4 linked regions of the Homo sapiens genome follow. The protein of the gene in region 1 interacts with the protein of each later gene in a pairwise test. Each region holds a gene or a part of one and is shown in the gene's direction. Other genes may lie near its edges.

Evidence for each region.
Region 2: the proteins of ZMYND12 (region 1) and FAM50B interact in binary tests that used the Homo sapiens proteins (3 or more experiments, as listed by UniProt).
Region 3: the proteins of ZMYND12 (region 1) and MOAP1 interact in binary tests that used the Homo sapiens proteins (3 or more experiments, as listed by UniProt).
Region 4: the proteins of ZMYND12 (region 1) and ONECUT3 interact in binary tests that used the Homo sapiens proteins (3 or more experiments, as listed by UniProt).

The regions. Positions count from the first base shown.
Region 1 is NC_000001.11:42,439,003-42,446,025, reverse strand, and holds part of ZMYND12 (zinc finger MYND domain-containing protein 12), read left to right. Parts: intron 1-6,000; coding exon 6,001-6,170; intron 6,171-7,023. UniProt on the Homo sapiens protein: Required for sperm flagellum function and male fertility.
Region 2 is NC_000006.12:3,845,379-3,851,830, forward strand, and holds FAM50B (protein FAM50B), read left to right. Parts: upstream 1-3,994; 5' UTR 3,995-4,108; intron 4,109-4,410; 5' UTR 4,411-4,433; coding exon 4,434-5,411; 3' UTR 5,412-5,939; downstream 5,940-6,452.
Region 3 is NC_000014.9:93,181,879-93,189,889, reverse strand, and holds MOAP1 (modulator of apoptosis 1), read left to right. Parts: upstream 1-4,992; 5' UTR 4,993-5,080; intron 5,081-5,176; 5' UTR 5,177-5,331; intron 5,332-5,527; 5' UTR 5,528-5,647; coding exon 5,648-6,703; 3' UTR 6,704-7,691; downstream 7,692-8,011. Other genes in the region: LYSET (lysosomal enzyme trafficking factor), read right to left, coding at 3,219-3,630, 4,405-4,484.
Region 4 is NC_000019.10:1,749,135-1,756,513, forward strand, and holds the start of ONECUT3 (one cut domain family member 3), read left to right. Parts: upstream 1-4,371; 5' UTR 4,372-4,528; coding exon 4,529-5,720; intron 5,721-7,379. UniProt on the Homo sapiens protein: Transcriptional activator. Binds the consensus DNA sequence 5'-DHWATTGAYTWWD-3' on a variety of gene promoters such as those of HNF3B and TTR.

The DNA.
Region 1 (7,023 bases):
CTGCCCAGGTCTGACACCCCATTCCAGACTGTCTTTCCTCCAAAGTAATGAGAAAAGCACTGGACAAGAAAATACAGCCCAGGTTCTGTTTACCTCTGACACTGGCTAGCTATGGGATTCTGGAAAAGTCACCCTAGCCCAAGTCTCATCATCTCTCATCTAGACCACTGCCTACTAACTGGTCTCCCCACATCATCTCTGGCCTCCCTCCAATGTGGTTTGCATACAAAAATGTGACCCATCACTCCTCTAAATAAAGATCAAATTTCTAAAGCAACCCATGAGGCTCTGCTTGATCTAGCCGTTAACAAATTCTCTCACCTCAATTCTATCACCTTGTCTCTCTTGAATTATTTTCTCCCTCCCTTCCAGTTACACCGACCGGCCTTCTCTCAGTTCCTCAGAAGCATGATGATTTCCTTGTTTGGAAAGGCTTTTCTGTAGCCACTCTCTCTGCTTCTCCTCCTCTTCCCTTCACCAAATTAACTCCTTATCATCTTTCAGGTTTCAGCTCAAGGGTTACTACTGCCTTGTCTAGAAGCTTTCCCAGGGCTCCAGACCAGGTTGGGTCTCCCCTTTTTTTTTTTTTTTTTTAGACGGAGTCCCGATCTGTTGTACAGGCTGGAGTGCAATGGCCTGATCTTGGCTCACTGCAACCTCTGCCTCCCAGGGACAAGTGATTCTCCCACCTCAGCCTCCCGAGTAGCTAGGACTACAGGCACGCACCACCACGCCCAGCTATTTTTTGTAGTTTTAGTAGAGATAGGGTTTCAGTATGTTGCCCAGGCTGGTCTTGAACTCCTGGCTTCAAATGATCCACCCACCTCAGTCTTCCAAAGTGCTGGGATTACAGGTGTGAGCCACCGCACCCAGCTGGGTCTCATTTTTAATATACTTGTTTAAAGAACTACCCTTTCTGGCCGGGCACGGTGGCTCACACCTGTAATCCCAGCACTTTGGCAGGCTGAGGTGGGCGGATCACGAGGTCAGGAGATCGAGACCATCCTGGCGAACACGGTGAAACCCTGTCTCTACTAAAAATACAAAAAAATTAGCCGGGCGTGGTGGCGGGTGCCTGTAGTCCCAACTACTCTGGAGGCTGGAGCAGGAGAATGGCATGAACCCGGGGGGCGGAGCTTACAGTGAGAGGAGATCGCACCACTACTGCACTCCAGCCTGGGTGACAGAGCGAGACTCCGTCTCAAAAAAAAAAAAAAAAAAAAGAACTACTCCTTTCTTCTGAGCACTTAGTCCATTAATAATTGTATTCATTGATGAGATTATTTAATTGTCTCCCTGCTCCAGTAGACTGTAAGCTCAGGGGAGAACTGGATCTGTGTCTATTCTTAATTATCACGGATGTCTTCACACTCAGCCCAGTACTTAGCACAGAGAAGGTACTAAAAAGATAATTTCACAGTACCTGAAACCTCGTGAGCACTGTGTAAGTATGTGTTGAATCTGAGTTGTCTTCACAGGATTCTTTTAAGGGTGAAATGAGTTCGAGTGTAATGACCATGAAAGTGCTTTGAAGTCTGGAAAGTACTGTCTAAATGGAAGATTTCACTGTAACTTCACAGTCATTGGTTTAAAACCTTGCTAACGTTTCTGGAAGTCTAAAGAAATCACTTTCCTGTGCACATGTTTCTTTCCCATCTTAGAGATTACTTCAGACTGGAGTGATTTGGAAGCAGGAGAGCCTGAGTTCAAATATCATCTCTTTCTTTACTGTCTGGGTGATCGTAGGCACCAAGCTCTTCCTCACTCAGAGCTCTCACATATATGGTTCCTTCTGCCTGGGATGCTCTTTTCTCTCTCATACGTGGCTGGCTTTTGATCATCCTTCAGGTGTCTGCTTAAACTGGCCAGGCATGGTGACTCCCACCTGTAATTTCAGCACTTCGGGAAGTCGAAATGGGAGGATCTCTTGAGCCCAGGAATTCAAGATCAGCCTGGGCAACCTAGCAAGACCTCATCTCTTAAAACAAAAAAATTAGGCGGTCATGGTGGCATGCACTTATAGTAGTCCCAGCTACTTGGGAGACTGAGGTGGGAGGATTGCTTGAGCCCAGCAGGTGGAGGCTGCAGTGAGCTAGGATTTTGGTTACTGTGTTCTGTTCATTTCCTTCACAGCACTCATGTTTTGTCTATTTATTGTATGCCTACTTCACTTGATTTTAAGCTTCTTGGAGTCAGGGATCATGTCTTAGTGTGCATTGAGCATCATGCATTGTGATAGAGACTCAATCAATTAGGTGAATATATGTTTGGTTGAATGAATGAATGAAGTTGCCTCCTCTTCAAATTCCTCATCTGATGATTATTTCACAGGGTTGTTAGCAGACTTAGACCACCGATGCAAAGGGACTAGCACAATGTTGGGCAAATAACAGGTCTTCAATAAATACAGATTCCCTTTTCTTCCCCTGGGCACCTCACAGCCACAACCTTTGACTCAGCTGTGACTGCTGTATGCTGCATTCCTTCACTTTCATCACCAAGTCCTGCAAAATCTTCTCCCATAATATCTCCCAGATCTGCCGTTAACCCAGTGTAAGCCTGTTGCCTCACCCTTCAGACAAGTACCACTGGTCTGTAAGTGGCTGTCCTTTCCCAATTCCATACACTAGTAAAATCACCCTAAGGGATAGTATCACTTCCTTTATGTCTCCACCACCTCCACTTCACCCTATGCCTCTCCAGGTAGGCACTGTCCATAAGAGGCAGGCCTGAACTTACGCACTCACTGGTCACAAGCTTAGTTCTGACTGTAATCTCATGGGCTAGTAGTAGCCCATTCTTCTCACCGTACTCTCTCTCTCTAGCCTCACAGTTTATTCTCCCAAGTATGCCTTTTCCTTTAGGACTGATGCTTGTTTAGATGCTGGTTCAGCTGGGCCTTGGAGTCTTCATTCTTTGGCATTGCCTCCTTGAGTGAGAACTGGATGTTGAAAATTTTAAATTTCCAATATTTGTCAATGCCCTGTCCCATTTTTTTCCCATCTAAACAATCTTAGTTAAGAGTCATTTGCTTCTTCAAATGTGAGAGGACTTCAGCCTAAACCTCATATTTTATAGACAAAGCCTGGAGGGAAGATGTGACTTGCCATGTTCACATGAGCCAGGATCAGGGACTAGGCCTCGTGCTCCTAATCTAGTAGTTTCCCATTTTAGTTTGCACTTTGACCTTCCATCAGGCAAAGTTACTTCCTTCTTCTTGTAGACTGCTTCCTCTTCATCTCTTTTCCTTTAATTCAGTGATGTAGGGTTACAACTAGAATAAAAGCATGCTTACATATGAACTAGGTCTGACAGGAAGGACACAGAGGAGCAGAGGGTTGGCTTATGAGGGGTTCGTGTCCTTACCTCTTAACCCTTTGTTGATGCCATTTCTGCTGCAGCACCTATCACACCAATGCTTCGCCCCCAGAGCACGCCTCCTACCCTGCAGCACACTGACGTAGTGGCTTTCTATTCTGTTCTGACAAATTTCCCCAGGAGTCAAGCAGGTAGGCAGGCCTCTGTATATATAAAGATGATATGTAATACACAAAAAGCTTTAAGTGTCAAGAGTATCTAAATATTAGCAATAAATGTGGCTTTCCTTTCTCTTACCTTCCACATTACTTAGTAACCGTGTGTTGTCCATTTTACTTCCTGTCTCTTTTTGATCTCCTCCTCTTTAGTTCACTGTCTTGTTTCAGGCTCTTAAGCGTGCTTGTCCGAACTATTTCAGACATCTTCCAGTGAATCTTCTACCTTTATTCCTCCCCTCTGGTCCCTCCTCCACATTGGTTCCAGAGGATCTTTCTAAATTTAAATCTGATTCTCTCGCCCTTTTTGAAAATCCTCTAGTTTTTATCCACATGCATCAAGTTCCTTGGTATAACTCACTAAGCCCTCCATGACCTGCCCCCTGCCTACCACCATAGCCTCATTTTCTGCCATTCTGTCTTTCACAATTTGTGCTCCAGCATCACAGGCCGATACAGTCCCTACACCCTCCATATTTGTAGGTTCTGCATCTGCCCATTCAAGCAACCATGGGTCAAAAATATTTTTAAAAATAATACAATGATTAAAAATGATACAAATAAAAACAATACGGCCGGGTGCGGTGGCTCACGCCTGTAATCCCAGCACTTTGGGAGGCCGAGGCGGGCGGATCACAAGGTCAGGAGATCGAGACCATCCCGGCTAAAACGGTGAAACCCCGTCTCTACTAAAAATACAAAAAATTAGCCGGGCGTAGTGGCGGGCGCCTGTAGTCCCAGCTACTTGGGAGGCTGAGGCAGGAGAATGGCGTGAACCTGGGAGGCGGAGCTTGCAGTGAGCCGAGATCCCGCCACTGCACTCCAGCCTGGGCGACAGAGCAAGACTCCGTCTCAAAAAAACAAAACAAAACAAAACAATACATGATGTTACTTGTGGGCTTATAAACAAAAAAAGAAAAAATGTAAACAAAAAAGACAAAAATGATATAGTAGAACAACTATTTACATAGCATTTACTTTGTATTAGGTATTATAAGTAATTTAGAGATGATTTAAAGCATAGGGAATGATGTGCATAGGTTATATGCAAATACTACACTACTTTATATTAGAGCCTTGAGCATCCTTATATTTAGGTATCTGATGGGGGTTCTGGAACCAGTTCCCTGCAGCTGTGACTCTATATAGTTCTATGAACATAACATATTATTTCATATTTCTATGACATTGCACATGCTGTTACTTCTGCCTGGGATGCTCTCCCTGCCTTATCTACCTGGAAAACTTCTATTCATCCTCAAAACCCAGCTCAGACTCTGCTTCAGTGTCCCTCTCCATCTCATCTATAGAATTAAACATTTCCTATCCTCTGACACTTCCAAAGCTTGTGTTGCTATTGCAATTATACTATATTGTAAATATATTTGTTTTCATGTTGCACTTTGATTCCCCATCACCCAACACAAGGCCTGGCACAGAAAGGGTATTAAATATGCATATATATATTTCACAATTGAGATATAATTCACATATCATAAAATTTACCCTTTTAAAGAACAATTAAGGCCAGACACAGTGTCTCACGCCTGTATTCCCAGCACTTTGGGAGGTCGAGGTGGGTGGATCACCTGATGTCAGGGGTTTGAGACCAGCCTGGCAAACATGGTGAAACCCTGTCTCTACTAAAAATACAAAATTAGTGGGGCGTGGTGGTGCATGCTTGCAGTCCCAGCTACTTGGAAGGCTGAGGCATGAGAATCACTTGAACCTGAAGGCAGAGGTTGTAGTGAGCCGAGATCGCGCCACTACACTCCAGTCTGGGCAACAAAGTGAGACTCCCTCAAAAAAACAACAACAACAACAAAAAAAGGACAATCCAGTGGTTGGTTTTAGCACATTCTGAAGGTTGTGCAACAATCACCATGATCTATTTCCACAACATTTTCATCACCCCTAAAAGAAAGCCTGTAATTGTCAGCAGTTACTCCCTCTTAGTGCCTCCCTTGCATTGGACCCCCTGTTAGTGCCTCCCTTGCATTGGACTCCCCCTGTCGCCTGGCCACCACTAGTCTACTTTCCGTCTCTATGGATTTGCCTATTCTGGACATTTCATATAAATGGAATCATACAATATGTGGCCTTTGGTGTCTGGTTTCTTTCACTTAGTATAGTGTTTTCAAAGTTCATCCACATTATAGCAGGTAGCACTACTTCATTCCTTCTTATGACTGAGTAATATTCCACTCATGGAGATGGAGATGGAGATGGAGATGGAGATGCCTCCTTTTGTTCATCCACTCATCAGCTGATGGACATTTACATTGTTTCTGTTTTTTTTTTTTTTACTCTTCCAAATAGGCTGCTGTGAACATTCCTGTATGAGTTTTTCTGTGTCAATAAATACTTGAGTCAATGAATACATGAGTGAATGGGTAATGACTCATATTTCCTCATGTGTTCTTTGGCCTGGATATGAATTATAACCTTCTTTTCTGCTTTTGGGCAGGTCTGGGCCGAATCGTTCAGGCTGAAGAATATCTATTCCAAGCCCAGTGGACAGTCCTCAAATCAACTGACTGTAGTAATGCCACCCACTCTTTACTGCATCGGAATCTGGGACTTCTCTATATAGCTAAGAAAAACTATGAAGAGGCCCGTTATCATCTGGCCAATGATGTAAACAAGCTAAGTTATAACACCTGTATATTTCCAAAATCTAAATTATAACACCTGTATATTTCCAAAATCTGTTTAATTTTTTTAAAACTGTGCATTTCTCTAAAACTTTCTGTTTACAACTGATTATTTGGTGGGATGTTAGCCATAACACAATTCTACCGACCCGAGTTCAAGCATTTCTACTTCATAGCTATTCAACCTTGGCCAGGTCACATATTCCTGAAGTTTCAGTTGCCCTGAAGAGTAAAGGGAGGCAAAACAGCATACTCGTTAAGAGAAGGGCTTTGCTGGCCGGGCATGGTGGCTCATGCCTGTAATCCCAGCACTTTGGGAGGCCAAGGTGGGTGGATCACGAGGTCAGGAGATTGAGACCGTCCTGGCCAACATGGTGAAACCCCGTCCCTACTAAAATACAAAAAATTAGCCAGGCGTGGTGGTGCATGCCTGTAGTCCGAGATACTCGGAAGGCTGAGGCAGGGGAATCACCTGAACCCGGGAGGTGGAGGTTGCAGTGAGCCGAGATCGCGCCACTGCACTCCAGCCTGGCGACAGAGCAAGACTTCGTCTCAAAAAAAAAAAAAGAGAGAGAGAGAAGGGCTTTGCTTCTAGTCACAGATCTGTTTCACTAGCCACATCGTCTTGGAAAATTTGTTTAACCTCTTTCATCACCTGCAAGACAGGAATAATAAAATAGTCTCTGTCTCACTGGGTCATTGCGAAGATTAATAATAGGACAATAAATGTATAGTACCTTGGCTATTATTTTAAAAAATAACAGTAATATCTCTACTTCAGAGTGTTGGTTATTAAATTTAAAAGAGCTAGATGTATAAGAAAGCACTTATCGATG
Region 2 (6,452 bases), on another chromosome or scaffold:
GATATTGACATTCAAGTTCTGATTCGATTAGAGAAAGAGTGAATATAGTATTTGTGGCCAAACGATAGTCGATTGAATTAAAGTTTAGTTGGTTGGATCATTTAACTGAAAAAAAGAGGTGGAGAGGCTATCTTATTTATGTTAAGTGTAATAAAGGTAATTATATGGGAAACCTGAGAGAGGAGACTATTGGTAATTTTGTCCATCTGTGGGTGGTGATGGTGATGGTGGGTGCTCCAGGCTTCCTCTTGGAGATGACATTTGTGCTGATCTTCAGGGATAGCACAGCGAAGGGCAGGACTTTCTAGAAAGAGTACGTCCAGAGGTAACAGTTATGAAAGGGCAACTTTTTTTTTAGATGAAGTCTTTCTGGGTCACCAGGCTGGAGTGCAGTGGTGCGATCTTGGCTCACTGCAACCTCCATCTCCTGGGTTGAAGCAATTCTTCTGCCTCAGCCTCCCGAGCAGCTGGGACTACAAGGCATGCACCACCACACCCAGCTAATTTTTTTTATTTTTATTTTTATTAGAGACGGGGTTTCACCATGTTGGCCAGGATGGTCTCGATCTCTTGACCTCGTGATCCACCCGCCTCGGCCTCCCAAAGTGCTGGGATTACAGGTGTGAGCCACTGCGCCTGGCCTGAAAGGGCATCTTCTATTCAGGCGCAGTGAAAAAGCTGGGTGAATGCTGCAGGGGTCCACCTATTAGAGACCTTAGAGGACAAACAAAGAGATTCTGATGTGGCTGTTACAAGGGAAGTTGGAGTTTTTCAAGTAGGAGAGTAATGTTATCAGATTCATTTTTTATGAAGATCTCTGAGGATATTGTATAGAAGTTAGACAAGAACAAGAATACAGGCATACCTCGGAGATACTGTGGGTTCAGTTCCAGACCACCACAAAGACAGTCACACAAATTTTTAAATTTTCTAGTGCATATAAAAGTTATGTTTATACTATACTATAGTCTAGTAAGTGTGCAGTAGCATTTTGTCTAAGAAAATAATGTGCATAATTTCATTAAAAATACTTAATTGCTAAATAATGCTAATGATCCTCTGAGCATTCAGTGAGCTGTGCTCTATTTGCTGGTGGAGGGTCTTGCCTCAGTGTTGATGGTTGCTGACTGATCAGGGTGGTGGTTGCCAAAGGCTGGGCCTGTGGCAGTTTCTTAAATCAATATTGAGTTTGTCACATTGATTGATTCTACCTTTCACGAAAGATTTCTTTGTAACATGTAATGCTGTTTGAATCAACTTCTTCCAAACTTCTGTTAATGTTGATATTTTACCTCCTCCCAAAAACTGTGAATGTCCTTCATGGCACCTACAGTGGTGAATGCCTTCCAGAAAAATTTCAATTTACTTTGCCCAGATCCATCAGAGAAATCATTACATACAGCAGCTATAACCTTTGGAAATGTATTTCTTAAATAATAAGACTTAAAAGTCAAAATTACTCCTTGATCTATGGGTTGCAGAATGGATGTTGTGTTAGCAAGCATGAAATCAACTTTAATCTCCTTGAGCATCTCCATCAAGCTCTTAGGTGACCAAGTGCATTGTTAATGAGTAATAATATCTTGAAAGGAATAATCAGAGCAGTAAGTCTCAACACTGGGCTTAAAAATATTCAGTAAACCATGCTGTAAACAGATGTGCTGTCCTCCAGGTTTTGTTGTTCCATTTACAGAGCACAGGCACAGTAGATTTAGCATAATTTTTAAGGGCACTAAGATTTTCAGAATGGTAAGTGAGCATTGGCTTCAACTGAAAGTCTCCAGCTACACTAGCCCCTAGCAAGAGAGTCAACCTGTCCTTTGAAGCCATGAAGCCAGGCATTGACTTCTCCTCTCTAGATATAAAAGTCCTAAATGGCATCTTCTTCCAATAGAAGGCTATTTTGTCTACATTGAAAATGTATTGTTTAGGGTAGCCTCCGTCATCAGTGCTCTTAGCTAGATCTTCTGGATAACCTGCTGCAGCTTCTCCATCACACTTGCTGCTTCACCTTGCACTTTATGTTATAGAGGTGACTTCCTTCCTCAGCCTCATGAACCAACCTCTGCTACCTTCAGACTTTTCTTCTGAAGCTTCCTCACCTCTCTCAGCTTCACAGAATTGAAGAGACTTAGGGCCTTGCCCTGGATTAGGCTTTGGTTTAAGGGAATGTCGTGGCTGGTTTGATCTTCTATCCAGACCACTAGAACTTTCTCCATATAAGCAATAAGGCTGTTTTGCTTTCTTATCATTCATATGTTTACCAGGAAAGCGCTTTCAGTTTCATTCAAGATTTTTTTCCTTTGCATTCACAACTTAGCTAACTGTTTGGCAAAAGAGGCCTAGCTTTTGGCCTATCCTGGCTTTTGACATACTTTCCTCACTGAGCTGAATCATTTCTAGCCTTTGATTTAAAGTGAGAGACGTGTGACACTTCTTTTCACTTGAACACTTAGAGGCCATTGTAGGGTTATTAATTGGCCTAATTTCAATATTGCTGTGTCTCAGGCACTAGGGAAGCCTAGGGACAGGAAGAGAGATGAAGGAACAGCCAGTCAGTGGAGCAGTCAGAACATACATAACATTTATCAGTTAAATCAATAAACGTCTTTGTCTTCTACTGCACACTTCGGAGTGCCCCCAAACAATTACAATAACCTCACAGAACGATGATCACAGATCACCATAGCAGATATCACAATGAAAAAGTCTGAAATATTGCAAGAATTACCAAAATGTGACACAGGAACACGAAGTGAGCACATGCTGCTGGAAAAATGGAGCCAGTAGGCGCTTGACGCTGTGTTGCCACAAATCTTCAATTTGTAAAAACAAAAACAAAACACACAGTATCCCAGAGCTCAATAAAATAAGATATTCTTGTATTCTGGTGATGGGGCAACAATGAGAAGGCTTTAGATTAAAAAAAATGCTAATTTCCTAGATTAAGGCAAGTGGTGGGGAATGGGAGAAAAAGGAAAGTGTGAAAGGCTCTTCTGTAATTGATTACCTGTGGAGGAACGTCATTCCAGGAAAAGGCCTAGGTTTCTGGCTTGGACAATTTGATGAGGGCTCACACCGTGCTGTTCTCCTCTGGATATGTGGGTGCCATATGTAATTATCATATGATTCACGCTTCTTGGTAAGGTTATGCTCACAGGCATTGTTGCTCTTAGGCGGGAGGAGGCTGAACCGCAGTATGTATTTCACAACCAGCTTTTCCAAACTAGGTCCCAGGAAGCACTGGTTTCGGCGAGTGTTACCAGATCTCCTGCAGGGGAGAAACGGTCACGAAACATGAACTGGTCTGCCCTGCTCTTGGAGAGTTACAGTGGAAACTGGCATGTTAGAGGCTCACAGTAAAGACACTGCTACACTTTAACTCAGTGTCCCATGGTTATTAGAGCTTAGAACCCGGGGGAAACTGCTGTATAGAAGAGGTCAAACAAGCTGAGTGCAGGTTTTGTCACGAAACTGGGGGGCGAGTAGGGTTCTATTATCAAAGAATGGTTGTGTTGGGGCCATAAGAAAGAATTACAGGCAGTGGTGCGCAGGTAATGTTCACGAGACGCCACAGCGGGGTAGCATCAGAGGCGGGAGGAGGAGGGTTGGAGAGCAGGGCCGTGTTGCAAGGCTCTCTGGGTGGCCACAGCAGCTTGCGCTGCGCCCACATTGCTTCTGCGTGTTTACAGTTGGGCACGAGAAGGCTCAGCACGCACGCACAGCAGGTGGGGGCCCGCCCTGCCCACAGCGTGAAAACAGGAGCCCCGGCCAGCCACGGCTGGGCAGGGCCAGAAGCGCCTCCTCCAGGATCCTCCCCGCGCTGGCCCGCCCCACAGGAGCACCGCCCCTACCAGGAGCCCGGAGCTCTTCCCAGGGCCCGCCTCCCCGCCAGGGGGCGATCCACCTCCACTTCCTGTTTCCGCAGCCGCCCTACCAGGAGCCTGGCACTCTCCTCAGGGCCCGCCTCCCCGCCAGGGGGCGCACCGCCTCCACTTCCTGTGTCCACGGCTGTCGCGAGAGCCCGGGGCGAGTGGGCCTCTGCTCGTGGGTGGTTCTCGTGGAGGTCAGCTCCCGCGTGTCTCCGCTCGACAGGGTGCTTGGGCAGGTAAGGGTCCGCTCAGTAGCCCAACCCTCTCTGTATGCAGCTCCCCAAATTCAGCGCTGCGCTCAGGCATGGCAGCCACCCGTTACGTGGGGCCGTTCGCATTTGCATTTATTGAGGTCAAATAAAATGCTGGAAATTGGTGCCTGGTGACACTGTCAGGTTGGTGGTTACCCTAGCAGGTCGGCCCAGCCCCTGAACGCTTCCATCACTGCCGAAAGCCCTGTGAGGAGGCGCAGAGCTGAGCATTCCCCGCCGTTGCGTGGGCCCCCCTCTACCTGCCGCGTTTTTCCTCTTTGCTGCAGAGCCCATCGGGTAGGCGCGGGCCATGGCGCAGTACAAGGGCACCATGCGCGAGGCAGGCCGTGCCATGCACCTCCTCAAGAAGCGCGAAAGGCAGCGGGAGCAGATGGAGGTGCTGAAGCAGCGCATCGCCGAGGAGACCATCCTCAAGTCGCAGGTGGACAAGAGGTTCTCGGCGCATTACGACGCCGTGGAGGCCGAGCTGAAGTCCAGCACGGTGGGCCTGGTGACCCTGAACGACATGAAGGCCCGGCAGGAGGCCCTGGTCAGGGAGCGCGAGCGGCAGCTGGCCAAGCGCCAGCACCTGGAGGAGCAGCGGCTGCAGCAGGAGCGGCAGCGGGAGCAGGAGCAGCGGCGCGAGCGCAAGCGTAAGATCTCCTGCCTGTCCTTTGCACTAGACGACCTCGATGACCAGGCCGACGCGGCCGAGGCCAGGCGCGCCGGAAACCTGGGCAAGAACCCCGACGTGGACACCAGCTTCCTGCCAGACCGCGACCGCGAGGAGGAGGAGAACCGGCTCCGAGAGGAGCTGCGCCAAGAGTGGGAGGCGCAGCGCGAGAAAGTGAAGGACGAGGAGATGGAGGTCACCTTCAGCTACTGGGACGGCTCGGGCCACCGGCGCACGGTGCGGGTGCGCAAGGGCAACACGGTGCAGCAGTTCCTGAAGAAGGCGCTGCAGGGGCTGCGCAAGGACTTCCTGGAGCTGCGCTCCGCCGGCGTGGAGCAGCTCATGTTCATCAAGGAGGACCTCATCCTGCCGCACTACCACACCTTCTACGACTTCATCATCGCCAGGGCGAGGGGCAAGAGCGGGCCGCTCTTCAGCTTCGATGTGCACGATGACGTGCGCCTGCTCAGCGACGCCACCATGGAGAAGGACGAGTCGCACGCGGGCAAGGTGGTGCTGCGCAGCTGGTACGAGAAGAACAAGCACATCTTCCCCGCCAGCCGCTGGGAGGCCTATGACCCCGAGAAGAAGTGGGACAAGTACACCATCCGCTAACACCCGCCTGCCAGAGCGGAAACCGGGGGTGGGGGGAGACACTCATTTCTAGGCCCCATCACCAGTCACTTGATTTCGTGACCTTGATTTCTTCCCCCAAATTTAATAAAGACAGAGGGTTCTCATGATTCACATTGGTTGTGCTATTGCTGATGTTATGCTTTGGTTGCTTGGTTGGTCTTTTCTGAGTATTTTAGTGTTGCCACCTGGATTTGCTGCATTGCTCTGCTGAGCTGTATTGAAACCATGACTGGGCCCACTGTCAGACAGAAATTAGAATAGGAGGCACATTTTTTACCTGGTGGTTATGAGCATGGACTTGGGGGCCACAGTGACTGAGTTTGATTCCCGACACAGCCTCCTCCTTGCTGTGTAGTTTTGGGTAAGCTTATTAAACCCCCATGCCTCAGTTTGGTCACCTGTAAAAGGAAATAACAAGAGCACTTACTTTATAAGATTGATGTGAGTATTAAGTGAATTAATATTTGTAAAACGCTTAGCTCTTAATAAATGTTTCTGTTGTTATTATTATGGTTTTGGTTAATTTATTTAAAGGACTGCAATGACCTAGTTCAGAACCATTTGAGGGCAAAGGTGGACCTGCCCATCACTGGTCCCAGGATCAGCAGTTGCCAGCAGGAGGGGGCTAGCAAAGGTTGGGGAGCAGCCCCCCTCTAGTGGGCTTTAGCTGGGTTGTTTAGCCCAGAAGTTAGGAGGACAGTGAGCTAATGCAAGTAGCCTGCAGGGTCAGTATCATTGATTTTCCTTTTGCTCCAATATGACTCCACAGGGCACAGTTACAGATCCTGTCTTCATTGAAAATGTTTGTATTTTATTCATTGTGGATTATTTCTGTTAATTTTGATTTTTAAAAATACTGTATTCAGGCTGGGTGTGGTGGCTCGTGCTTGTAATCCTAGCACTTTGGGAGGCCGAGGTGGGTGGATCACCTGAGGCCAAGAGTTCGGGACCAGCCTGGCCAACATAGTGAAACCCTGTCTCTACTAAAAATACAAAAATGTGCCTGTAATCCCAGTTACT
Region 3 (8,011 bases), on another chromosome or scaffold:
GGCCCATGCGATCTTGGCTCACTGCCACTCTCCCTCCTGGGTTCAAGCGATTCTCCTCCCTCAGCCTCCTGAGTAGCTGGGATTACAGGCATGCACCACCAGCCGTGGCTAATTTTTCTATTTTTAGTAGAGACAGGGTTTCACCACGTTGGCCAGGCTGGTCTTGAACTCCTGGCTTCAAGTGATCTGCCCACCTCAGACTCCCAAAGTGCTGGGAGTAGCATGAGCCACCCCTTTTTAATAGAAATGGGGTCTCGCCATGTTGCCCAGGCTGGTCATGAACTCCTGGGCTCAGGCTATCCTCCCATCTCTGCCTCCCAAAGTGCTAGGATTACAGATGCCACCACTCCCAGCCTACATAAAGCATTTATAAAACAAAACAAAACTGAAATAATTTTCTTAAATCACTGCCTCAAGACTAATAAAACTGGCAACTCTCAATGATTTCCCTCAAATTACTCTCCTTTTTGAGAAGCAGTATAGAATGATAAAAAGCTGGAGATCTGAAGCCAACATCCTAGGTTCAAATCGGCTCTTTCACATACTGGCTATGTGACTATGGACAAGTTATTCCTACGTGTTTCAGGTTTCTTCTGTAAAATGACACTAGTAGCAGTATAATACCTGCCTCCCAGGACTGTTGTGAAGAATAAATGTAAATCACTCATAAACAATGTCTGTAACATGCATACTGAATACTTAAAAGATGCAAGTGATTTGGTCATCTGACCCTCACAAAAACAAGTATTTCAAACTGCTGCTTACTTTGAGGATTCCACGTGTTATATCAAAAGATATATCATTTCAGTAACTAGACCTTTGGAGGCAGTGAGATAAATGAGACTAATTGATCTGAAGGATCTGATCTGCTACTTTTACATCACAAAGGTACCTGCTTTATCTTTTAAGTAACAGCTTGCTATGGAATACTCAGCCTTCCTTTCGGGTTCAGTCAGATGTAGTGGAAAGATGAGGTTGCTAGGAAACTTTCAGATTTCTAGTAGACAAATAGAGAAAAACTTGTCAATACTATTGCCATTTCCATTCTTTGGCATGACTGGGCAAAGAGTACCCAGTGCTAAAACATTTGTCATTTGTGAGAAGCGCTATGCCTCTGTGGTTAGTAACGATGGCGTTAGAATGCCTGGTTATAACCCTGGCTCTGCTACTCGCTGTGACCTTTGGCAAGTTACTTGACTTCTCTGCCTCAGTTTCCTTATCTGTGAAATCTGGATAATAATACCCATCTTATAGGGTTGTTGGGAGGATTACATTAGTTAATTTCCATAAAGCTCTTAGAATAGGGCCCAACAGAATAAGCATCAAAAAGTGTTGATTATTAAAAGCATAAAATGTTTTCCAGTATTAATGACATAACTGTATAAAAATATATCTTGATCTCATGCAGAAAAGAAATGCTACTGTGTCCATGTTTTAGTTATTTGTATTAGTACCAGATGTGAGGTAGTACAAATGCAAAGGAGAAGGTACAGGAACACATCTTCATGTAATTAACCTACTGCCTGATGACCTGACCTTGGGCCAGAAAAGAAAATCAGAAAGATTATGACTTGATAGCATCTTTTAGAGGGGTCTCATGCATCTGATAAGGACTGGACTAAATTACCTGCTATAGGCTGGCCATGGTGGCTCATGCCTGTTATCCTAGTACTTTGGGAGGCTGAGGTGTATCACTTGAGGTCAGGAGTTCGGGACCAGCCTGGACAACATGGTGAAACCCCGTCTCTACTAAAAATACAAAAATTAGCCAGGCATGGTGGTGGGTGCCTGTAATCCCAGCTACTCGGGAGTCTGAGGCAGGAGAATAGCATGAACCTGGGAGGTGGAGGTTGCAGTGAGCTGAGATCGCACTTCTGCACACCAGTCTGGGCTACAGAGCAAGACTCCATCTCAAAATAAATAACATAAATAAATACAGCTAGGCATGGTGGCTCATGCCTGTAATCCCAGGCCTTTGGGAGGCTGACGCAAGTGGATTACCTTAGTTAGGTGAGGAGTTTGAGACCAGCCTGGCCAACATGCTGCAACCCTGTCTCTACTAAAATAACAAAAATCAGCCAGGCATGGTGGTGGTCACCTGTAATCCCAGCTACTCAGGAGGCTGAGGCAAGAGAATCGCTTAAACCCGAGAGGTGGAGGTTGCAGTGAGCCGAAGGTTCCAGTGAGCCAAGACTGCACCACTGCACTCCATCCTGGGTGACAAAGCAAGGCTCCGTCTCAAAAATAATAATAATAATTTAAATAAATAATAAATAACCTGCTAGATTTTCATTGAACACATTGTTTCCATCTTCTATTTGTAAGTTATTTCTAGCCTTTCAACATTTAACACTTAGTTTCTTCCCAGATAGTTTTCTAAATCAGTAGCATTGGAGCGTACGTTCTCAGGGCCTTCTGAGACTGTGTCACAAGTCATGGAAAAAAAAAATTTTTTTAATTAAAAATAGCTGGGCATGGTAGCTCACACCTGTAATCCTAGCACTTAGGGAGCCAGAGAGAGGAGGAAAGCTTGAGCCCAGGAGTTCGAGACCTGCCTGGGCAACATAGCGAGACCCCATTCTCCACAAAAAAGAAAAATATAAAAAATAAAACCATTAAAAGCATTAATAATAATTTAGCCATTACCAAGAGGAAGAACAAATTCTGCTTATCAAGACAGCCATTTCCTCAATAATTTTTTAGCAATGCCTCATAAGCTGACAGCAAGTCTAGACAGCTGGCTTAGCTGCAATAGAATGAATCGGTGTTTTAAGTGTGAAGAATTTTAAAGCAAGCCAAGTAATTGTATAAAATTTAAATTTTATGATCATGTCTGGACCTTTTTACACTTAACACAATGGAAATGTTCATATTCATTTTTTTCCCCAAAGGAAAAATTTCTGAATCATCACTATGTTGCACAGTAGAATAGAAATATGAATTCAGGTACTTAGTCAAGTTTCTAAAGAATGCAAATAACAGACATGATTTAACTTCCAAAATCTGAAGTCATCAACATGATTTTGTAGTACTCTATCTCAGGTTTTACCTAAAAATTCGTTATTATTCAGATAAAGATAGCTCCCTAATCACATGTTTTTAAAAAGCCTCTGCCCCACGACAACTTCCTGAGATCTGTGAAGAAACTGCAGTCTTGTGATCAGACTCCATATAGGACTGGCAGTTTTGTAATCGTAGGGAAAAAACGGTGACTGATTTTACGTGTCAATCAGTTGTAGTCTGCTGATCTGATTAGAAGCCTTGACAAATGCCTGGTGGCGATTGCAAATAACTGCCAAGCATATAGGGATGATACAGTAGCCCACTGTTTTGGGATCAGCTCTTGTACAAGAGTATAGGAACAAAAACATCTGTAAGTAAGGTACCAGAAAAATAACTGTCCACACCCAAAAAGGCAAGGAGAGTAATTGAGCTTTCAAGGAGTGTGTCCATGTGGTTCCTTCAAGGGGCTCCTCAGGGTGCTGTTGAATGTGTTCCAAGGCCAGCCTGTTGTAAGTCTCACTGATTTCAAAAACATAGTAAAATGCTGCTGCACTGGCTAACAGATACAATCCCACTCCAATCCATCCCATCCGCTGACGGAAGTTCATCATTCTCCATGCTCTGTGCCTTCAAATTAAAAAAGAAAATACAATTAGGGTCTAGTAATGCTGTCACGGCAACTACTCCAAATGTACTTGCTTTATCTCCAAGAATTCTAGGCCGGGCGCGGTGGCTCGCGCCTGTAATCCCAGCACTTTGGGAGGCTGAGGCGGGTGGATCACGAGGTCAGGTGATAGAGACCATCCTGGCTAACATGGTGAAATCCCGTCTCTACTAAAAATACAAAAAAAATAGCCGGGCGTGGTGGCGGGCACCTGTAGTCCCAGCTACTCGGGAGGCTGAGGCAGGAGAATGGCGTGAACCCAGGAGGCAGAGCTTGCAGAGAGCCGAGATCACGCCACTGCACTCCAGCCTGGGCGACAGAGCGAGACTCTGTCTAATTAAAAAAAAAAAAAAAGAATTCTAAAATATCCCACTAACACACTTAAGATTTAAAATAATTAAATTAAACACCTATTAAGAAATGTAAAACTTACAGGTTGTTTTGTGTAATACTTACAATCAAGTAAAACAACACACACAAAAAAACAAAAAACCATTGATTTCAGTATATACTGAGTTCTGCTTTTTAACGGGAATCCCTCAGAATAAATCACTGCATCCTACTTAAACAGGTCCATAATACCCGCCCTCCAGAAACTGGAATTAAACTAGTTTCTCACAGCACATTTCACTTTGACAGGTGAAACACTTTCTGGCATAACAGTACTGCTTCAGACGTGAACGCGGGGTGCTACAAGTCAAGCCCCCAAGTTAAGACAGTAACTCCTAAGCACTTACAATGGTCCCGAAAATCTTCCTGTTCCCACGGCAAGCGTTAAAGAGTCACTCAGCTCTGAATAATCGGGTGGCTTTGGCATTTCAGAGAAAGCCAACATAAAATAAATCCCCTGGGTCACCCGGCTAGGAGAAAGGTGAGCGCCGCCAGCCTGGAGCACCAGCTACTAGTGATTAAGAACGGCGTGACTGCGGCGGGTCACGCGCGGCCCGGCCCCCGTCGCCGCCGCCGGAGACCCGCTCTGAGAACCTGACCCGGCAGGGAGGCGTCCCCGCCACTTGGGCCTCCGGGCGGCCGGCCCCGCCCCCTGCCGCGCTGCAGCGCCGGCACGCCGCGACCAAGGCTGCGCAGGCGGCGCCAGGCCCGGGCCTCGCCGCCTTGCAGCGCCGCGAGCCCAGCGCCCGTCAGCGGTCGCCGGCGGAGCCTGCTTGCAAAGCTGAGGTCCCGGATCTCACCTTCCTGTCCCGTGGTGGCCAGCCCGCCCGCCGTCCCGGATGCCGCCGCAGTCGGAGCTTCCGGCTCGGGCCGGAAGCGCGCGCGCCCCGCCCCCGAGGCCCGCCCCTCATGACGTCAGATCGCCCCCGCCCGCCGCGCAGCTTCCCCGAGCGAGACCAAAACAGGTGGAATCCGGGCTGGAGCCGGAGCTCCGGCGGCGCGGGTGGCGGCACGTCCCTCCAGGTGGGTGGCTCTCTGGGTCTGGCGACTCAGCGCTCCTCAGCCTTGCCCCCTGGTGCCCGCTCGCGACTGTCATCGCCCCATCACTTCTCGTTGCAGACAGTACCACAGGCACCTGGAGTACCGGCATCGGTCGCTGTGGCCCCCGAGTGTCCGTCAGAGCCTAGGGGAGCCTGCCCTCCCGCGCCTCGTCGGGGCCCGGCCAGGCACCTTGGCCGCCGGCGCACGGACGCGGGCACGAGCACTAGATCACGGTGAGTGGAAGCGGGCCCGACGCGGCCCTGCAGGCCCGACATCCGCCAGGCACCAGGGCTGGGAGGGGTGAGGGGCGCGCGCCGCAGTGCGGCTGCCCTGGCGTCGCCGCTGGGGGCAGGGCGCGCGGGGCTTGGGGCCTGCACGCTTGCCCTGGACGTTGGCACCTTTAGCTAACCTGTCTGCTCTGTCTTGCAGGCTGCTGGACCTCGGCACGTTGACAAGATTTCTCTGGGGTACCGCGGAGGATTACTTTGAATTTCGGTGGTCGCCTGTGGTCTGGCATATTTAGAACTTAAGTCTATTATTTCGGGCACCATGACTTTGAGGCTTTTAGAAGACTGGTGCAGGGGGATGGACATGAACCCTCGGAAAGCGCTATTGATTGCCGGCATCTCCCAGAGCTGCAGTGTGGCAGAAATCGAGGAGGCTCTGCAGGCTGGTTTAGCTCCCTTGGGGGAGTACAGACTGCTTGGAAGGATGTTCAGGAGGGATGAGAACAGGAAAGTAGCCTTAGTAGGGCTTACTGCGGAGACTAGTCACGCCCTGGTCCCTAAGGAGATACCGGGAAAAGGGGGTATCTGGAGAGTGATCTTTAAGCCCCCTGACCCAGATAATACATTTTTAAGCAGATTAAATGAATTTTTAGCGGGAGAGGGCATGACAGTGGGTGAGTTGAGCAGAGCTCTTGGACATGAAAATGGCTCCTTAGACCCAGAGCAGGGCATGATCCCGGAAATGTGGGCCCCTATGTTGGCACAGGCATTAGAGGCTCTTCAGCCTGCCCTGCAATGCTTGAAGTATAAAAAGCTGAGAGTGTTCTCGGGCAGGGAGTCTCCAGAACCAGGAGAAGAAGAATTTGGACGCTGGATGTTTCATACTACTCAGATGATAAAGGCGTGGCAGGTGCCAGATGTAGAGAAGAGAAGGCGATTGCTAGAGAGCCTTCGAGGCCCAGCACTTGATGTTATTCGTGTCCTCAAGATAAACAATCCTTTAATTACTGTCGATGAATGTCTGCAGGCTCTTGAGGAGGTATTTGGGGTTACAGATAATCCTAGGGAGTTGCAGGTCAAATATCTAACCACTTACCAGAAGGATGAGGAAAAGTTGTCGGCTTATGTACTAAGGCTGGAGCCTTTGTTACAGAAGCTGGTACAGAGAGGAGCAATTGAGAGAGATGCTGTGAATCAGGCCCGCCTAGACCAAGTCATTGCTGGGGCAGTCCACAAAACAATTCGCAGAGAGCTTAATCTGCCAGAGGATGGCCCAGCCCCTGGTTTCTTGCAGTTATTGGTACTAATAAAGGATTATGAGGCAGCTGAGGAGGAGGAGGCCCTTCTCCAGGCAATATTGGAAGGTAATTTCACCTGAGTCTCAGGGAACCACGAAGGGATATGGCAATGAGTAGAGCATGAAGGTAGAACAGTCTATATACTCTTGTGACACATACAATCCCTACCTTGTGCTGCCAAGTAACTCATTTTTGTGCAATTCTCAGTATAAGCCCTTTGTCGTTTCTGTGCCTATTTAAAGTCTCCTAAAGGTGTAATTGACTAGGAAGGATGTAGTTCTACACTGCCATTTACCTATTTAAATTCATCCTTGTGAATATCTTTGTTGTTGTTGTTGAGACAGAGTCTCGCTCTGTCACCCAGGCTGGAGTGCAGTGGCGTGATCTTGGCTCACTGCATCCTCCGCCTTCCAGGTTTAAGCTATTCTCCTGCCTCAGTTGCCCGAGTAGCTGGGACTACAGGCATGTGCCACCACGCCCAGCTAAGTTTTGCATTATCAGTAGAGACGGGGTTTCACCATGTTGGCCAGGCTAGTTTCGAACTCCTGACCTCAAGTGATCCACCTGCTTCGGCCTCTGAAAGTGCTGGGATTACAGGCGTGAGACACTGCGCCCAGCCTCATCCCTGTGAATTTCTTATTGTACACAAGTTCTTTCACTATCTGTGTGCAGTGCTCTGAGGGGACAGACAAGGCTTGGGTGTATATGCCAACCAGATCTCATTGAAGTATCAGCTTGTTTGGTACTAGGTGCAAGTGTAGCATGTCACATGTGACCATGTTGGATCATTGACAATTTTTAGGTATGTACTGACCTACATTTATGATGAAGATCCTGAGCGGAGGTTAAGATATTAAGTTATTTTCCATATGAATCAGAATTATATTGATTCTGTGCAATCAAAACAAAAGGCAGAATAGAATGCTGAGATTGGTTAAGTTTGCAATGACCATCTTGAACCACAGATTTCTGCTATGTGTCATCAAAACATCTAGTTCTGAGTAACATTTTCACGATTGTTATAAAATTATAGGTGTGAACTTCTAAAATAAAGGAATGCTAATAAAATGACTTTGTCTGTTTTGTTTATATCACGGTTCCAAGAGAGATTTCATTTGAATAAAGAGTTCCCAAAGCATGAATCTGCAAACCACTGAACCTACACAGACTTAGTTCCTTGGACTCTTTCCTCTTGGTGCTCAGGGGTAGGAAATTGTTTTCTAAGTGAAGGGACCTTCTACCGAAGCAGTAAAACAATGGGATGAAACAAGACAGTGCACAAATTAGTGCGAGTAGTGCAGATGTATCAGTGTGTCAAATTTGGAAGGAGAAGGAAAGAAATGAACATTGCATGCTGCTGCTTGGAAGATTGGACTAAAAGTTTCTCC
Region 4 (7,379 bases), on another chromosome or scaffold:
GGCGTCCAGTGAGGAGGGGCCCAGGCCTGCGAGACGGGGCGCGTTCCTGTCCCCAGACCCCTCCGGCTGCGCCTCAACCCCCAGCCCGGCTCTCTGACCTGCATCGGTCGGGCCGGGCACAGAGGAGGCAAAGCAGGCGGAGGCCGCGAGAGGAGAGCAGCCTGACCTCCCGCCTGAGCCCGGACCCTTCCCCTCGGGCACCCTCGGACGCCCCCGCCCCAGCGTGTTACTTTCTAGATGGGGAAACTGAGGCGCGGCCAGGGCGATGCGGCGGAAGTCCCGCGCCCGGCCGTCTCCCGCGCCTGCCAGACAGAGCCCCGAGAAGAGGGCATAGAATTCCCTCCTCTAATTGTGTCCCAGAACTCTGGGACGACGGAGGCCAAGCTGCTGAGGGAGGGGACGAGGACGCGGGGCCCCAGGGACCAACCCCTCCGCTCCCCGGCCAGCCGCGGCCGCCCAGCCTCGGTGCCCCGGCGCAAACAAGCGCGGTGTTTGCCGAGCGCGAGGCGGGCGGCGCGGCCCGAGAGCGATGAGGATTCGATGGAGCCGCTCGCCGCGGCGGGGGCAACGGAGCCCGGGCGGGCGCGGGGATCGATCGGGCACAGCTGTCGCCTAAGAGCCCGCGGGAGCATCCACCCGCGGGCCAGAGCTGCCCGGGCGCCCCGCAACTGCGGGCAGGAAATCCGGGACGTCGGGCCCGCCAGGGGCGAAACCCCAAAGTCGCGACACCCGGGGTGGGGAGGTCAGGACGTCCCCACGGCCAACGTGGAACCTTCGGGAGCCGCGCGCTCAGCCTCGCCGGGACCCCCGCCAGGCCGTAAAAGCCCAGAGTCTCCCCCCAAATCTAAATAAAATCCCCAGACCCCGCCCGAACGAAGGCGGCTGGAGTCCAGAGGGAGAACTCCTGCCACACACTAGGCACCGGCGGCCGGGATTTGGGGCGCCCGCAGGTTTCGGGGGCCGGGAGTGGGAGCAGAGCGGATCTAGGGCTGCGGCTGGGCTTGGGTGGGGCGCGCATTCATTGCCATCGTTTAGTAAAACCTCGCTTTAATAAAAGCAGGGAGGGGTGCGCAGAGCCCGGACACTTTCATTTCGGTGGGAGACAAATCGAATCAGAAAGTCAGTTGGGGGCGCACTGTGCAGGGTTCTGGGGGAGCCCCAGGAAAGGAAAACTTGAGGTATCTGACTCTGCCTTTGATATTTTTAGCTGCAATGGGAGAGTCAATAACAACAGGGAAGGTGGTGTGTCCAAAAATGGGGGAGGTGTGGAGGATTAAAGAGGGGGTTCAAGCTTAGGGGGTCCGTTTAGGGAGTTTGAAGCCGTGGAGAGTGCGCACCCCTGGGGCATGGGTGGAGGCCCCCAGTCCTCCCCTCCACCCGCGGGACTCTCCAAGCCCTGAGGTTGGCAGGACCAGAGGCTGCCCTTTTTGACTCCTCCCAGACGCAGGCCAGGCACAGAGAGGGTGAGCGTTGGTCTGGGGCAGCCCAGCACCTGCTGAGGTCCCCCTCCCCAACTCCCAGACACAGACTCGGGCTCTGGGAGTCAAACTTTCATCTTCCTGGAGGGGATACTGAGGCCAGAGAGCTTCCTCGAGGTGGCTGAGGTCCCTGTGGGGTGGGGAAGGGGGACTTCTTGTCCCGATCCAGCCCACCCCTCCCCCTGCCCACAATTTGCCTAATGACCCAGGATCGATCTGGGCCTGGGCAGCCAGCCTACCCGGTGGCCGGCTCAATTCTATTTTACTAATTACTAAAAGGCTGCTGCTGGTGGGGAGAAGCAAGCTGGGGGCTCCAGGGGGCCACAGTCCCTCTCTTGGGGCCAGCAAAATTCTGTTCAATCTCTCAACGGGACCACAGCCTCTACAAGGAGTGAGATCCCCATCCCTGGGGGAGTCCAAGTGTCCATCAGCCGAAGGGAGGGGTGAGGGGCTTCGCAGACCTGGATAGGGTTAGGTCCACCAGGCTGGGCTGCCCCTTCCAAGTCTAGGGAGCTTTGGAAGGGGTCTGTGGCCACCTTAGCGTGTCCTGAGGCAGCAGAGGGGAGAGGCCCTCTTCCTCTCGGAGTCCCTGACCCTCGTCTTCTCTTTCAAAATGGATGCTTTCCCTGCTAGAAAAGCCACACACGCTTGCTATTAAAATGAACACGATCATCAAGCTGTAAAAAATATATTTAAAAGGAAGCCTGCAAAATCCCAGCTCCCTAGGAGCTCCCCCACATTGGCATTTGGGGGAACTTCCTTCCACCTTGTTATCCTCCCACCCGTAGAGACCCCCAGCCCCCACCTGGTCTGCGCTTCTTGAGCCTGGGATGCTAGCGTTTTATGGCGGCTGATTGATTTTTAGATCTCACGATTATTTTTAATTATCTGTGATTGTTGGAGGGTGAGAATGAGGAGCGCAGGCTGGGGCTCTGTGCAGCCACATCCCCCCCGCCGAGATTCAGCATCTGCACGGGGAGTGGGGTACGCGACTGTTCGGACCTGCCCCTCTCTTCCCACCTGGAAGATGGGTGTAATTATGTAAACTCCAGAAATTATACCTGAACCCTGGAACTGGAAAGTTTAGGGACCGACACTTCAGGGGGCAGGAGTTAGCACTTGGGCAGATGTAGGAATGAAGGGGGGAACTCTAGGGCCACCACCCCCCCACCTTGGGCCAGAGACACCCGGAAAAATTGTGATTTGACTTCCCCCTCTCTGGGGCTGAGAGAGGAGAGTATGCCTGGTAAATAACAGGCACTTACTAAATGCCGAGCCCTAAGCAGCGAGTACTAACAGGGGTCCCCTTCAGCCCTATCCCTCCCCAGGACTTGGATCAGGCCACCTCAGGCTGGGGGCCCAGATCATTCAGGCCCCCTCTCTCTCTGGCTGTTGTGGTCAGCATAGACTCACCTCCGGCTCCCAGCTGGGCAGGCTGGAGGGCACCCCCTCCCACACCAGAGAAGGGGAAACTGAGGCACAGAAAGGGCCCTATTCCAGAGCCAACCTAGTCTTGGTTCAGAAAATCGCATCTCCAATGTGTAGCCACGTCTACAGGGGCCAGGAAATCTGGATGCAGGTGCAAAGCTGGGGCCGGGGTTTGCCCAGAAGGTTTGCACCAAAGGGGAAGTGACAGCCTGACTGTGTCCTCCCCTCTTCCTTCAGCTTTGAGCCCTGATGCAACCCTCTGAGATGGGGGTAACTGGGGGCTCCCGCGAACCGACTGCCTGACCCATCCCCTTCCTCTTCTAGAAAGTGCACAAGCGTTACCCCGGGGGTGGGGGGGGCAGAGGCAACGGGGAAGCAGGAAGGGGCTGAGGCTGGTTTTGGACTCTGCACCGTAGCCTCTGGCCTACAAGACAGAGCATCCTCTAGATTCTGGTCTGGCCCCTCCAGATCCGCAGCCCTGACCTTACCCCACTGGCGGGATCTAGTCCCCTGGGGGTCTCTCTGATTATAGGAGCCCTTCCCCCATCTATCCCAGTTCCCAGGGGCCCCTGGGGCTCACCTGTCTCCAGGTGCTGAGAAAAAGGAGACCCCTGCCTCCCCCCACATTGAAGAGAAGCCCCAGGGACAAAGAGGAGTTTGCACCAGCGACGTCTCAGAAGACAGGGGATCCAGCCTCAGCCTCCGTGGGCTGGAGGGTGACAGGGGCTCTTAGTGGTCACCCCCAGGCTCCAGTGCCTCCAGCGGCCGCACTGTAAAAAGGCCCTGCAATTAGAAGGGGCCTTTGGCAACCCCGAGGCCGGGCAGCCCATTGTACAGTTGGGGAAACGGAGGCCCAGGTGCCCACACATGGGCAGAGGCTGACCCCTGGGGCGCACGGAGGCCCTGACCTAGCCTTAGGACCTCCCTTTTCCCCCACTTCCTCCACAAAGAGGTTGTGGGAAGGGGGCTGTGACTCCGTAGGTGTGAGTGGGAGTCGGGGGAAGCTGAGCTTGCAGTGGGGATCTAGCTCCTGGGGGTCTGTAGGGAACGGGGGGGGGGGGGGACACGTACATTACAGGCGACCGTCCAGCCACACTCCCAGAAACTCCCTGGAGATGGACTTGGGGGTGCCAGGCAGAAAGCCACATCTGGGACTCTGGAGAGAATCACACAGAGACGCGAAATCGGAGACTCTGGGTCGAGGCCCCCAGCCCCACCTGGGCAGAGTCTGTCCTCGGACCCCCGCCCGCTGTCCCCCGGGTACGGCCTGCCCCAGCGGGCGCGGGCGGGCGCAGTGGCCAGGGACGCCGAAGCCCCAAGTCTGGCCGACTTCGGCCTGCTTGGTGCTCGAGTGGGGCCGGGGCGGGCGGAGAGCGAGGCTGCGGGAGGCAGCGGTGGCAGGAGCGGGTGGGCGGGGGCGCTGACGTCAGACCCGGGCCCGGGCGCCGGCGGCCGCTCCCCTGCCACATCCTGGTGGCCGCGCTCGCAGCCGGGCCGGGCCGTGCGCCGCGCAGCCTGGCAGCCTCGCGCGCAGCCACCGGGGAGCGGGCGGGAGTCATGCAGCGGCCTTGAGCACTAGGGGCCGGCGCTGAGGAGCGCGCGCGGCGGGAGGGCAGCCGAGCATGGAGCTGAGCCTGGAGAGCCTGGGGGGCCTGCACAGCGTGGCCCACGCGCAGGCGGGCGAGCTGCTGAGCCCGGGCCACGCGCGCTCGGCGGCGGCGCAGCACCGCGGCCTGGTGGCGCCCGGGCGCCCGGGCCTGGTGGCCGGCATGGCGAGCCTGCTGGACGGCGGCGGCGGCGGCGGCGGTGGGGGCGCCGGGGGCGCGGGCGGCGCGGGCAGCGCGGGCGGCGGCGCGGACTTCCGCGGGGAACTGGCGGGCCCGCTGCACCCGGCAATGGGCATGGCCTGCGAGGCGCCGGGCCTGGGCGGCACCTACACGACGCTCACGCCCCTGCAGCACCTGCCGCCGCTCGCGGCCGTGGCCGACAAGTTCCACCAGCACGCGGCGGCCGCGGCCGTGGCCGGGGCGCACGGCGGCCATCCCCACGCGCACCCGCACCCGGCGGCCGCGCCGCCCCCGCCACCCCCGCCGCAGCGTCTGGCGGCCAGCGTGAGCGGCAGCTTCACCCTCATGCGCGACGAGCGGGCGGCGCTCGCCTCCGTGGGCCACCTCTACGGACCCTACGGCAAGGAGCTGCCCGCCATGGGGTCGCCGCTGTCGCCGCTGCCCAACGCGCTGCCGCCCGCGCTGCACGGCGCCCCGCAGCCCCCGCCGCCGCCACCACCCCCGCCGCTGGCCGCCTACGGCCCGCCAGGCCACCTGGCTGGGGACAAGCTGCTGCCGCCCGCCGCCTTCGAGCCGCACGCCGCGCTGCTGGGACGCGCGGAGGACGCACTGGCCCGCGGGCTGCCCGGAGGCGGCGGCGGCACAGGCAGCGGCGGAGCGGGCAGCGGGAGCGCCGCGGGGCTGCTGGCGCCGCTGGGCGGGCTGGCGGCGGCCGGGGCGCACGGGCCGCACGGGGGAGGCGGCGGCCCCGGCGGGAGCGGCGGCGGCCCCAGCGCGGGCGCAGCGGCCGAGGAGATCAACACCAAGGAGGTGGCGCAGCGCATCACGGCGGAGCTGAAGCGCTACAGCATCCCGCAGGCAATCTTCGCGCAGCGGATCCTGTGTCGCTCTCAGGGCACGCTCTCCGACCTGCTGCGCAACCCCAAGCCGTGGAGCAAGCTCAAATCCGGCCGCGAGACCTTCCGCAGGATGTGGAAGTGGCTGCAGGAGCCAGAGTTCCAGCGCATGTCGGCGCTGCGCTTGGCAGGTAGGAGCGTGGCGCGCAGGGCCAGACCCTGGGGGCGCCGGCTCTGGACTCCCGAGCACCTAGCGGGGCGGCGGCCGATGCCCGGGGCCAGCGCCCCAAGCCCCGCCCGTGCGCCCCGGCAGCCCGGGACCCCCTATCAGGAAGCTAGACCGCGATCCGCGCCGCTGCCCGTTTGTACCGTTGCCAAAAGGGAGAAAGGGATTGTGCCGCCTCCCCGCCCCCCGGTCGCCGCTTCTGCCCCTTTCGGGAGCGCGTAGGGGTTCTCTAGTCCTTGTTAGACTGCTGGGAGGCTCCGAGCCTCTCCCCAAGCAGCCCTCAGGGAAGCTCATTGTGTGTGTGCGTGTGTGTGTGTGAGCGCGCGCCTGTTGGGGGGAGCTGTGTCCCCGAACGAGCTGCTGTTGTCGGCTAAGGTGCCACTCCCCTCCTCCAGAGTGGGTGGAGAGGGGCTGTTGAGCCCCCAGCCCCGGGCCACAGAGCTCCGAGACGTTGCGGCGGGCGCCTGCAGCTCAGCAGCAGAGGCCGAGCCCGCGCTCATCCCCCCACCTGCCCCAGCGCGCGCTTCTTTGTAGTTCGGCCCCGCGATCGATACCCCCTCCCTCTCCCCTCCGGCCGCTGGCAAAGGTCACCCGAGAATGGCGGGGGAGGGGCGGCCCCGGGGACCCTCGGCCCGCGCCGCCCGGAGGCCTTCACACCCCGACCCGGCGCCCGCCCCGCGCAGTTTGGTCGTGGCTCGGGTGCGCGCGCCCCTGCCCGCCTGGCTTTGGGGTTTTGTGTCTCTCATGTCCACTTCTCTCCTCTCTCGGTCGGAACACACTGGTATCTCTATGTTTTTCTCTTGCTCTCCGTTTTGCTCTTGTTCCTGCTCATTATCTCTTCTCCCTGTCGGTCTCTCCGCCTCTGTCTCTGTCTCATACTCAGCCACCGGCCCCCTGGGGACCCTCCTCCCTCCTCCCTCCCAGCTGACAACAGCTAAGTCCACACCTGCCCTCTGACAGGCAGCCCGGCCAGGCCCCCATTTCCTAGGTGGGGGTGTAAGGGTGCAGGAGGGCCCCTGGCCTAGGTGGGGGTTTCTTTCCCTGGTGGTGCTGGGGAGGGGGCTGTCCACCCGGGCCACAGGGACAATAGCCGCGGCGGCTGGCGCCTGATCGATCGCTTCTCCGAGCACAAGGGCGAGAAAGGCGGGGGCTCTGGGAGGCGCCCCACTAGCAAAGAGGCAGAGGGGCTTGCGGCTGTGCCCCCAGGCAGCCCGTCCAGGCAGGGGGGCTGGGCGAAGAGAGGACAGCGGGGTGTCCTGTGCTGTTCCTCCCTAGAAAGCCATTCCCTCCCTCCACCCCAGGAGGACCAGACAACCCCCTGGGAGCCTGGACCCACAGGCCGGCCTCAGTTTCCCCCTTCTGCAGAGCAAGCAAGGTGACTAGCTGGAACCTCTTATGGGATTCTTAGATTTTTCTGCTTTGGGGCACGGGAAAATAAATAGTCTTTCGCGTGTGGCAGGGTAACCTTGTGCTCAGGGAGGTCCGGGAACCTGGACGATTTCAGTCTGTCCTGCTCCCCTCCCCATGACACATACAGCGGCACTCGTGCGCTCACCATAGACCGGCGGTCATATCCGCACACAGCCACGGCCCTCGAGGTGCAGTGCGAGGCCTCAGGTGGCAG